3 linked regions of the Homo sapiens genome follow. The protein of the gene in region 1 purifies or fractionates together with the protein of each later gene. This does not show direct contact. Each region holds a gene or a part of one and is shown on either strand. Other genes may lie near its edges. The genes, in order: IFT172, KATNIP and IFT74.

Evidence for each region.
Region 2: the proteins of IFT172 (region 1) and KATNIP purify together in Homo sapiens (tandem affinity purification; one large-scale study listed by IntAct). This does not show direct contact.
Region 3: the proteins of IFT172 (region 1) and IFT74 purify together in Homo sapiens (affinity purification with mass spectrometry; one large-scale study listed by BioGRID and IntAct). This does not show direct contact.

Annotation. Positions count from the first base shown.
Region 1 is NC_000002.12:27,458,653-27,462,306, reverse strand, and holds part of IFT172 (intraflagellar transport protein 172 homolog), read left to right. Parts: intron 1-470; coding exon 471-548; intron 549-789; coding exon 790-1,038; intron 1,039-1,213; coding exon 1,214-1,292; intron 1,293-2,477; coding exon 2,478-2,598; intron 2,599-2,784; coding exon 2,785-2,929; intron 2,930-3,438; coding exon 3,439-3,528; intron 3,529-3,654. UniProt on the Homo sapiens protein: Required for the maintenance and formation of cilia. Plays an indirect role in hedgehog (Hh) signaling, cilia being required for all activity of the hedgehog pathway.
Region 2 is NC_000016.10:27,738,577-27,742,230, forward strand, and holds part of KATNIP (katanin-interacting protein), read left to right. Parts: intron 1-1,464; coding exon 1,465-2,344; intron 2,345-3,654. UniProt on the Homo sapiens protein: May influence the stability of microtubules (MT), possibly through interaction with the MT-severing katanin complex.
Region 3 is NC_000009.12:27,053,822-27,057,475, forward strand, and holds part of IFT74 (intraflagellar transport protein 74 homolog), read left to right. Parts: intron 1-1,787; coding exon 1,788-1,951; intron 1,952-2,512; coding exon 2,513-2,638; intron 2,639-3,654. UniProt on the Homo sapiens protein: Component of the intraflagellar transport (IFT) complex B: together with IFT81, forms a tubulin-binding module that specifically mediates transport of tubulin within the cilium. Binds beta-tubulin via its basic region. Required for ciliogenesis.

The sequences.
Region 1 (3,654 bases):
AATCCCAGCACGCTGGGAGGCTGAGGCAGGTGGATCACATGAGGTCAGGAGTTCAAGACCAGCCTGGCCACATGGTGAAACCCCATCTCTACTAAAAATACAAAAAATTAGCCAGGAGTGGTGGCACACGCCTGTAATCCCAGCTACTCGGGAGGCTGAGGTGGGAGAATCGCTTGAGCCAAGGAAGCAGAGGTTGCAGTGAGCCCGAGATCACACAACTGCACTTCAGCCTCGGCAACAGAGTGAGACTCCATCTCAAGAAAAAGAACAGTTGCCTTGGAAAGGGTGTGTGCAAATAAGGAGCCCTGAAGCTTAAGCTTCTTTTAGTTTCCCAGTATTTCTGTTGGTATAGTAGTTAAAAGGCTTTTGGTCCTCATGGGCTGGCATCTTAGCCAGGCTGAGGAGAGCTTGCTGCTTTCTGATCCTCATATCTTTCTGGTGTCCCTCTCTGCTCTGCCTGTTTCCCCTAGAATGCTGTGGAGGAGGCCATGGGCATGTACCAGGAGCTACACCGTTGGGATGAGTGTATCGCTGTGGCTGAAGCCAAGGTACCTGTTTTATCTTCTCCACAGTTGTTCAGAATTTGGTTCTGCCAATTTCAAAAACCTCCTTTTGTCAAGGAGGCCATAGAAACCAGAACAGGGTTGGGGCTTGGACTTGATGTGGTGAGGAGTTAGGATACTGCTGACCCAGGAGGATTCCCCTTGTTATAGAGGGATTGGAGAAGCATGGGAGGCAGAAGGGTAGGAAGGGGGATGTGACTCCTAGTTGTCCTCTGTGCATGTCCAGGGGCACCCAGCCCTGGAGAAGCTACGTCGTAGTTACTACCAGTGGCTGATGGACACACAGCAAGAGGAGCGAGCAGGTGAACTACAGGAGAGCCAAGGGGATGGGCTAGCAGCCATCAGCCTCTACCTCAAAGCTGGGCTCCCTGCCAAAGCTGCTCGGCTGGTGCTGACCCGAGAGGAACTGCTAGCCAACACAGAGCTGGTAGAACACATCACTGCAGCCCTTATCAAGGGGGAACTCTACGAAAGGGTATGCTGGCTTCCTTTTCCTAGCCCTTATCTCCAGAGCTCAGGACCCTTCCCTTACCCAGAGGAGTCTTGGGGTGCAGAGCGCTTCCTGACTGCTGGTGTTCCCTTGTTTTCGGAGCTAATACTTAGTTCTTTGTGTTGTAGGGGTATCATAGTAATGTGGTATGTGTTAACAGGCAGGTGATCTCTTTGAGAAGATTCACAATCCACAGAAGGCCCTGGAGTGCTACCGTAAAGGCAACGCATTCATGAAAGGTACTAGCCACCTATAAGCCATCCTTTACTGTTGTGGACTCTTGCCCATCTGGTTCCCTGGCACCTCTTGTAGGGGTGGGTTGCCCCTACACACCTGTGGGTGTTTCTCGTAAGGTGGGACGAGAGATTTGGAAAAGAAAAAGACACAGAGACAAAGTATAGAGAAAGAAATAAGGGGACCCGGGGAACCAGCGTTCAGCATATGGAGGATCCCGCCAGCCTCTGAGTTCCCTTAGTATTTATTGATCATCTGTGGGTGTTTCTCAAAGAGGGGGATGTGTCAGGGTCACAAGACAATTGTGGGGAGAGGGTCAGCAGACAAACACGTGAACAAAGGTCTTTGCATCATAGACAATGTAAAGGATTAAGTGCTGTGCTTTTAGATATGCATACACATAAACATCTCAATGCTTTACAAAGCAGTATTGCTGCCCGCAGGTCCCACCTCCAGCCCTAAGGCGGTTTTTCCCTATCTCAGTAGATGGAGCATACAATCGGGTTTTATACCGAGACATTCCATTGCCCAGGGACGGGCAGGAGACAGATGCCTTCCTCTTGTCTCAACTGCAAGAGGCATTCCTTCCTCTTTTACTAATCCTCCTCAGCACAGACCCTTTACGGGTGTCGGGCTGGGGGACGGTCAGGTCTTTCCCTTCCCACGAGGCCATATTTCAGACTATCACATGGGGAGAAACCTTGGACAATACCTGGCTTTCCTAGGCAGAGGTACCTGCGGCCTTCCGCAGTTTTTGTGTCCCTGGGTACTTGAGATTAGGGAGTGGTGATGACTCTTAAGGAGCATGCTGCCTTCAAGCATCTGTTTAACAAAGCACATCTTGCACCGCCCTTAATCCATTCAACTCTGAGTGGACACAGCACATGTTTCAGAGAGCACGGGGTTGGGGGTAAGGTTATAGATTAACAGAATCTCAAGGCAGAAGAATTTTTCTTAGTACATAACAAAATGGAGTCTCCTATGTCTACTTCTTTCTACACAGACACAGTAACAATCTGATCTCTCTTGCTTTTCCCCACACCTCTTGGTGCGTGTGTTCAGGATGCCTGGCTCCAGTCCTCCATTCCTCCCCTTCTTACCTATTCTCCATGCTTCATCTCCCTGTCCTACCTTTTTCCTGAGGCCCATCCCTGGAAATCTGGGCTGAGCATCTTTTCTCTCCCTGGCAGCGGTAGAGCTGGCTCGATTGGCCTTCCCAGTGGAGGTGGTGAAACTAGAGGAGGCATGGGGGGACCACCTGGTGCAGCAGAAGCAGCTTGATGCAGCCATTAATCACTACATCGAAGCCAGGTATGGGAGTATGGGAATGTAAAGGAGATTTAGGTGTGAAGTGAGGGGCAGTGGAGCAAGTAAGGACACCAAGGCCTTAAAGAAGAGATCTCAAAATGTAGGTTGAAGTGTGCTTAAAGGGTCCTTTTACCTCCATTCATCTTCATCTTTCATCCTACATATTTATATCTTTCCCAACTTTGCCAGGTGCTCCATTAAGGCAATTGAGGCCGCCCTGGGTGCCCGCCAGTGGAAGAAGGCAATTTATATATTAGATCTACAGGACCGGAACACTGCATCCAAATACTATCCTCTCGTGGCCCAACACTATGCATCCCTGCAGGAGTATGAGGTGAGGAAGAGTCCCTTTCCGCAGCACGAGGCAATGCAGTAGAGGATAACAATGAGAGAACCCAAAGCAGGAAGTGGAGGCAAGTTCACCAGATCCTTCTTTCTGGGCTCCAAACAGCATCATCACCTTGAAGGGGAAGAGAACAGTTTACTTTCCCATTTTCATTCCAGTGTGACACAGATATCGCCCTTCACCCCAGATATATAAAGTGAGTCTCTAGCTGTGTTCCAGTCAGCGTGATTCTTCATGAATAATGCTAACATAGTTATGATATAAAATTGCTTTGCATTGCAGAAATGTGAGGCCCTTTTGGATTCCACTGTTTGGGGCTGGTCTTTCTTTTTAAATGGTAGAATGTATGAGACACCCATACTCATCTTTTCTTCTCTATTATTACAAGGTTGTATCGCAGGCTCTCCACCATCCCAGCCAAGGTTTGTTCTTTCCTCATTCAAGCTGCTTTAAGTCTGTTGCTCTGACCTTTTGTATCTACCTCCCATCAACTACAGATTGCTGAGGAGCTCTATACTAAGGGAGATCGGACAAAAGATGCCATAGACATGTACACCCAGGCTGGTCGTTGGGAACAAGCCCACAAGGTAGGGATGGGTGGAGTTCATGATAAGAGAACTCTGCCTTAGTGGCATTGTGGCCTCATTCCTTGATACCTGTTTCTCCTCTTCGCTTGGCTCCCTGAAAGCTGACAAAGAGTACCAAAAAACAGT
Region 2 (3,654 bases), on another chromosome or scaffold:
CAGTGAGAGAGGAGAGCGAGGTGGGGACCATTTGTGAAGGTTACTGTATGTCATGTGGAGAGCTTTGGAATTTATCCCATCATCGGCATGGTTCTGCACCCCGTCGTGTGAAGAAATCATCCGGAGAACTTGTTCTGAGTCCAGAAGTTACCTACAGGCTGCCTTGAGGCAGTGGTCCTCACACGGCATCCTCCTGGCTCCCTTCCAACTGCAGCTGCCGTGAACATGGGACAGTCCCCGCATGTGGACAGTGCCCTGCCTCAGGTGCTCGTGGGGTGCTCTGCCGTGGGAGCACACTCAGCTCGTGCATGTGTTGGGGCATCAGTGCCCTGAGGGCAGCCTTCAACAAGCAGTGGATAAATGTCCCAGTCTTGGAGAGACATTTGCGACATGCATTTAAGCAGAAGACTCCCATGATCTGATTTCAGTTAAAAAAAAAAAAACTCACTGCTGCATAGAAAATGAAGTGTGAGTGCAGGGATTTGGAGGAGACAACGCAGAGTGGAAGCAGAGAGACCAATTAGGAGGCGGCAGTGGTGTCTCTGGTAGAGACCCTGGTGGCCTGGGCAAGGAAGGCAGCAGCACATTCCAGGTAAAGAGGTCAGACCCAGGAAGTGTTCTGGAGAGAGAGGCGAGGGACAGCTGGCGGATTGGATGGGCAAGTGAGAAAGAGAGGGATCAAGGGGGCCACGAGGTTTTTGGCCACTGCTTCAATGATGGAGCCATTTTTAAGATAGGTGAAGACTAGGGTTGGGGAAAGTGAGATCTTGGAGTGCCGCAGAGGGCCCCCGTGGGAAGGAGCACCAGTTGGCCACAGCAGTGACCAGCTCAAAAAAACTGGGTTTTTCCTTTTTCCTGCCCTATCTTGCTTTCCCCATTTCCTCTTGGAATCACCTGCCAAATACTCGACTTGCACCCGAGTCCTTGTCTCAGCCTCTGCTTTTACGGTCTCCCAATTATGATGCCCACGGAGGCCAGGAAAGCTGTTTTATAAGCACTCCAGGCTTTTCGACGCAGATGGTCTCAGGAACTGGACTTTAAAGAACACTGCTATAGGCTGTGAAAAAACATGAAGGATTTCACACAGGGGAATGACTGGACAGATTTGCTCTGGTAGGAAATGAACTCTGGTGGCAATGTGAAGTCCAAGTTAAAGTAGCAAGAGACAGGAAGCAGGGAGACCCATTAGTAGGCTATTACGAATGTCCCGACAGGAGGTAATGATGACGAAGGCAGCGATTGAGGCCGTCTCTTTGTGAAAGTCCTTTGATTTATAGAGTATGTAGCGGTTCCCACAGAAATGAGACCAAGCCTAGTTTCACACCCCCAGCACTGTGGTTTTCAAAAGCTTGCATTTCTAGCATTTCACATTTTCTTTTCTTTTTTTGGTATCTTCGACTTCCAAAATTTCATACATCAGTCTGATGCTATGCATCTTCACTTTGTTAAATCTTATGGTTTCAGGATCTTGACATTGGTGCCAAGAACGTGAAGCTTTACGTCAACAGAAACCTCATCTTCAATGGCAAGTTAGACAAAGGAGATAGGGAGGCCCCAGCTGACCACAGCATCCTGGTTGACCAGAAGAACGAGAAGAGCGAGCAACTAGAGGAGGCCATGAACGCTCACTCGGAAGAAAGCAAAGGCACCCATGAGATGGCTGGTGCCAGCGGGGACAAGGAGCTTGGTCTCGGTTGCTCACCGCCAGCTGAAACATTAGCGGATGCAAAGCTTTCTTCACAAGGAAATGTGTCTGGCAAAAGAAAGAATTCTACTAATTGCAGGAAAGACAGTTTGTCCCAGTTAGAGGAATATTTGAGACTGTCGGCAGTCCCCACTTCGATGGGTGACATGCCCAGTGCTCCTGCCACTTCCCCACCTGTGAAGTGCCCTCCTGTCCATGAGGAGCCCTCTCTCATCCAACAACTGGAAAACCTCATGGGCAGAAAAATCTGTGAGCCACCCGGGAAAACCCCATCCTGGTTACAACCTTCTCCCACCGGCAAGGACAGGAAGCAGGGAGGCAGGAAGCCAAAACCCCTCTGGCTTAGTCCCGAGAAGCCCCTGGCCTGGAAGGGCAGGCTCCCATCAGACGATGTCATCGGTGAGGGTCCTGGAGAGACCGAGGCCAGGGATAAAGGCCTACGGCATGAGCCAGGGTGGGGGACCAGCCGGAGTGTCAACACCAAGGAGAGACCCCAGAGGGCAACCACCAAAGTCCACAGTGATGACTCAGACATCTTTAACCAGCCCCCCAACAGAGAGCGCCCTGCTAGTGGGAGGAGGGGCTCAAGGAAGGATGCTGGCAGCAGTAGTCATGGGGACGACCAGCCAGCCAGCAGAGGTAAGCTCCAAAGAGCAGCCCGACTTGGGCATCATCATCCCAGCCCCTCTAATTGGCATGAAGCCAGTTAGCTCCTGGACCTCAGTTTCCTTATCTGCACAACAAGATGGTTGTTCTCAACTAAGGGTCACAAAATCACTGTCTCAGGGGCCAAAGAGATGCATACATGAGTGAAATGGGCAAGACACATTTTGCATGGTAAATTCATAGATGTATTTGTCATTGCCACCAAGGTATGTCCCTTTGCCCATTTTTCTTGCAACACATGGCTTTTCCAAGCCATTTTCCAAAAGACTTTGTTCTCCTGCCTTTCATAGAGACATCGGTCTCTAGTCACTTCACTTTATCCTTAACTGTACTGTTAGAAAAATAGCTGGGTACAGTGGCCAGGCCTGTAATCCCAGCACTTTGGGAGGCTTAGGTAGGAGGATCGCTTGAGCCAAGGAGGTCGAGGCTACGGTGAGCCATGATTGCGCCACTGCACTCCAGCCTGGGTGACACAGCGAGACTCTGTCTCAAAGAAAAAAAAGAAAAAATAATAACACAAGTGTGATGATGCATAGCAATTGACACTTGCCTGAGTGTTGGAAGTGGCACAGGGAATAGTGAGGACTTTGGCAATTTGGAGACCATAAGCCCACCCACAGGGCGGCTGCCACTCCACTCAGGTTTCTAATAAGCATTTAGGAGTGCAAGGCCAGGCCGGGCGCAATGGCTCACACCTGTAATCCCAGCACTTTGGGAGGCCGAGGCGGGCAGATAACCTGAGGCCAGGAGTTCGAGACCAGCCTGGCCAACATGGTAAAACCCTGACTCTACTAAAAATACAAAAATTAGCCAGGCATGTGGTGCGTTCCTGTAATCCCAGCTACTTGGGAGGCTGAGGCAGGAGGATCACTTGAACCTAGGAGGTGGAGGCTACAGTGATCCGAAATTGTGCCACTGCACTCCAGCCTGGGCAAGAGAGTGAGACTCCGTCTCAAAAAAAAATAATGAATGCAAGGCCACTGTACCAGACCTCCTCTTTACTTTTTTCAAGAGAAACCAGAAATGTTTCTTATTTTTTGACTTTGGCAACTGATTGAGATTATTTTTAAACTACTGTATATGTCAAAAAAAAAAAAAAAAGGCACATCTGCTGGCAGGACTCACCCTGAGAGCTTTGTGAACTTTGCAGTAGATGATTAGATGGTCTTCAAGGGCATTCCTGATTATGAAAGGAGAGCCCATCAAGGCAGGGAGTCTCAATATTTGCACTCAGACTTGGCTCCTGGAGAGTACGGATAGCAGCTAGGAGTCAAACCATTGAA
Region 3 (3,654 bases), on another chromosome or scaffold:
AGGCTAAAAACAGTTCCTATTTCGAGCATTAAAATAGCATAAGCCTTAGTCACTTGTTCAGCTCTTTGATTCTCATAACTATTTCTAACCGTGGTAGAGATAAGAATCCAACAAAACAAAACTCTTTGCAACAACATTTAAGTTTTGCTATATACATATTTGTATTTACGTGTACATACACATATATATTTTTAAATAGTGTATGTCGCTGTGGTTGACTTTTAAAACTCTTAAAGGGATAAAAGGAAACATTCAAGAAATACTGGCTTAATTATACTAACTTTAAAAATTTTGGTTGGATAACAGCCTGTTTTCTCAAATCAGTGACTTTCGAAGCATTGTTTTTTACTCTTCAAATTCATTCATATTCATTTACTATTCAGTATGCTGAACTTGTTACTGGCTCAAAGGTACTAGACTTTCTTACCTCTAGACTTTGCACATGCTGATTGTTTTTGCTGGAACACTTTTACCTTCCTCTTTGTGTGATATTCATAAACCTTAAGCCTTTAATTGAAAGGCATATCTTTAGAGAGCTCTCTTCATCCCTGCTACATGCTTTTATGGCACCCTGTGCTACTCTTTTCATATTTATCCAGTTTATTGTAAATACTTATTTAATTGCCTGCTTCTACCTCTAAAATACAGCTCCCTGAGTGAAAACCATGTCTCTGTTGATTGCTATTATATCCTCAGCACCTGGCACATAGTAGATGCTTGATATTTTTGAATGGAAGAATGAGACACACACAGGTATCCTCATTATTCATATATTTCATATTGTGAATTTGCCCTCTCACTAAAGTTACTTTGTACCCCCCAAATCAATCCTTGCAGCATTTTCATGATCATTTGTGGGCATGTGCAGACTCGTGAAAAATTTCAACAGCCTGACATGCACATTGCCAACAGAAGTTGAAAAAGGCAACACTCTGCCTTCTTATGTCAGTTCTCATACTATAAAGAGGTTTCCTTTTTGCAGTATATTTAGTGGCATGTTTTTTGCATTTTTGTGCTTTCTGTTGGTGATCATGCCATTTAAAATGGCCCCAAGCAAAGTGCTGATGTGCTAAGTGTTCCTAAGGCACATCATAGCCTTATGGAGAAAATGTGTGATAGGTAAACTTAATTCAGGCATAAGTTACAGTGCTGTTGGCTGTGAGTTCAATGTTAGTGAATCTACAACCTATAGTAAATAAAATGTCTTTAAACAAACATAAAGCAAGATTATGTATTGGCTAATTGACTAAAATGTGACTAAAGGCTCACAGGAACTTAACTCTGTATTTCCTTTGGGAGCAATAGTTCAATATTTGCTAACTCATTGTTCACAATAACTTCATAGGACATAACTACCACAGATAGTAAGAGTTGATTATGTGTGCAATTATAAAATTGTGCTCAAATATATATATAATGTTTTATAACTTGGTTTTTTCCCTACATAACTGTGTCATGCTTCTGTTAAAAATAATGTGTCTTTATCTCATAATATAGATTATATTACTAAGCAAGAAAAAAACTTAAATGTTTGTTAGCATGGAGACAGCTGTGGCTAATAGACATCAGGTTACCTTGATTCCCTAATATATTGGTTACCTGAAATTGGTTATTGAGGGGATGAGTATTTTTTTTTCTTAGTTTATATTATCTCACTGGTTACAGTGAACATATATTTCTTTTACAGATATTCTTAAAAAACATGATTTTTAATAGTTGCATTACATTTCCTTATGTGAAAGGAATAAAATTTTGATTAATTATCACCTTAAATTCTTATGTTTCAGACATTCAACGTCTGCAGTTGGATCTGCAGAAAATGGAGCTTCTAGAAAGTAAGATGACTGAAGAACAGCATTCTCTAAAAAGCAAAATTAAGCAAATGACAACTGATCTGGAGATATATAATGATTTGCCAGCTTTAAAATCATCAGGTGAAGAAAAGATAAAGGTAAATGTTAACCAAGTCTTACAGAATTACAATTCAGATTGTTTTTTTCTTGATCAAATGTAATATATTTGTGGTTTATAGGATTTATTATTTTAAGTTGATTATTTTATATATATAAGTGAGAAAAAATAAAAATGTTTACATATGTAGTTGGAATTTAGAGTGACTTAAAGTTTTAAAGAAAAGCAAAAATTGAAAAGCAAGGTATAAGCTGCTACTTAATACAGAGCATTTCAGCAGATGTGAGCTTTGTTAAATGCAGTTTAGATTATGACTCTATCCTACCTGAAACTTGTCAGTGGCTTTCCATTGCCATTTACATTAATTTAGACTTAATTTGGTAGGGTCGGGAGAGATATGGCAGCATTAATAGAGTTATTAATACAGATAATGTTAACATAGCTTATAGTTCAAAGGATATTTTTACAAACGGGTTTTAGAGTAGTTATAGCCTTGATATAATTTTACCAGAATATAGTTATTGAAATTAAGTTAAATATGATTTATATTGGCTTACTACATATTTTCTATAACCTGTCACTTCTATTTGGATCTTTCTAGAAATTACATCAGGAGAGAATGATATTATCAACCCACAGAAATGCCTTTAAGAAAATAATGGAGAAGCAAAACATAGAGTATGAGGCACTAAAAACACAATTGCAAGAAAATGAGACACATTCTCAGGTAAAAAATGTTTTAAATGACTTTGAAATTGTCTTAGTCTATATTTTCACCCCAAAACAATCAATTTTTTATTTTAAAATTTGCTTTATATACCTTCTAGATTTTCTGACTTTTAAGACAGCCAGATTCTGTACAGTCTTCATTCAGAATGAATGGACTCCTGCTTTCTTACCTTCCATAAACCTATATTGAAAGCCAACTCTGTTAGATACTGTCTTGGGCACAACTGTTAAGATATATGGGGTAGTATATTTTAAAAATTTTGGAAGTGAAACATTACTAATACAGAAACTAAAAATCCATAAAATCACAAATAAAATAAATTCTAATGATTAGTACCCCACCACCCAGAAGAGAGAATGCTTATTGTTGCTTTAGTGTGGGTTCTTTTAGTCAATGGATAGATAGATAGATAGATAGATAGATAGATAGATAGATAGATAGATATGTGTATACACATATTTATGCATATACTTAGGTACACATTTATTTCTATGCATTTATAGAAATTGTGCCATATTGTACATATCATTTAGGAGCTTGTTTTTCATGATTAACTATACATCATAAGTACTTTCCCTTGTCAATATATATATTGACTTTTAAAAAATATTAATAGCTTAATGATATTCTAGTGCATGGATGTCGCATAATATATTGAACCAATTCCCTTTCGTTGGATATTTAGGTAATTTCTAGTTTTAAAACCATTGAAATAATGCTATAAAGAGCAATCCAGGTATCCTTGAACTTCTTAATTCATATCTCCAATTATTTACATAGGATGCGTAGATATATATACCTGCAGCCCCCTTTTCATATCACTCATCTTGCTGATAATTACTTGAACAGTGTGTGAGGTCTAGATTGAGAGCTCTGACGGGACAGAGACAATGTCTGTCTCGTTTACTTTATTCCTTGCCCTGTGGTATTGGTTGGCACATAGTAGGTACTCAGCAATTATTTGTTGAATGATTGAATGAAGCATTATGTGTCATGTACAAAGTCAATAACTA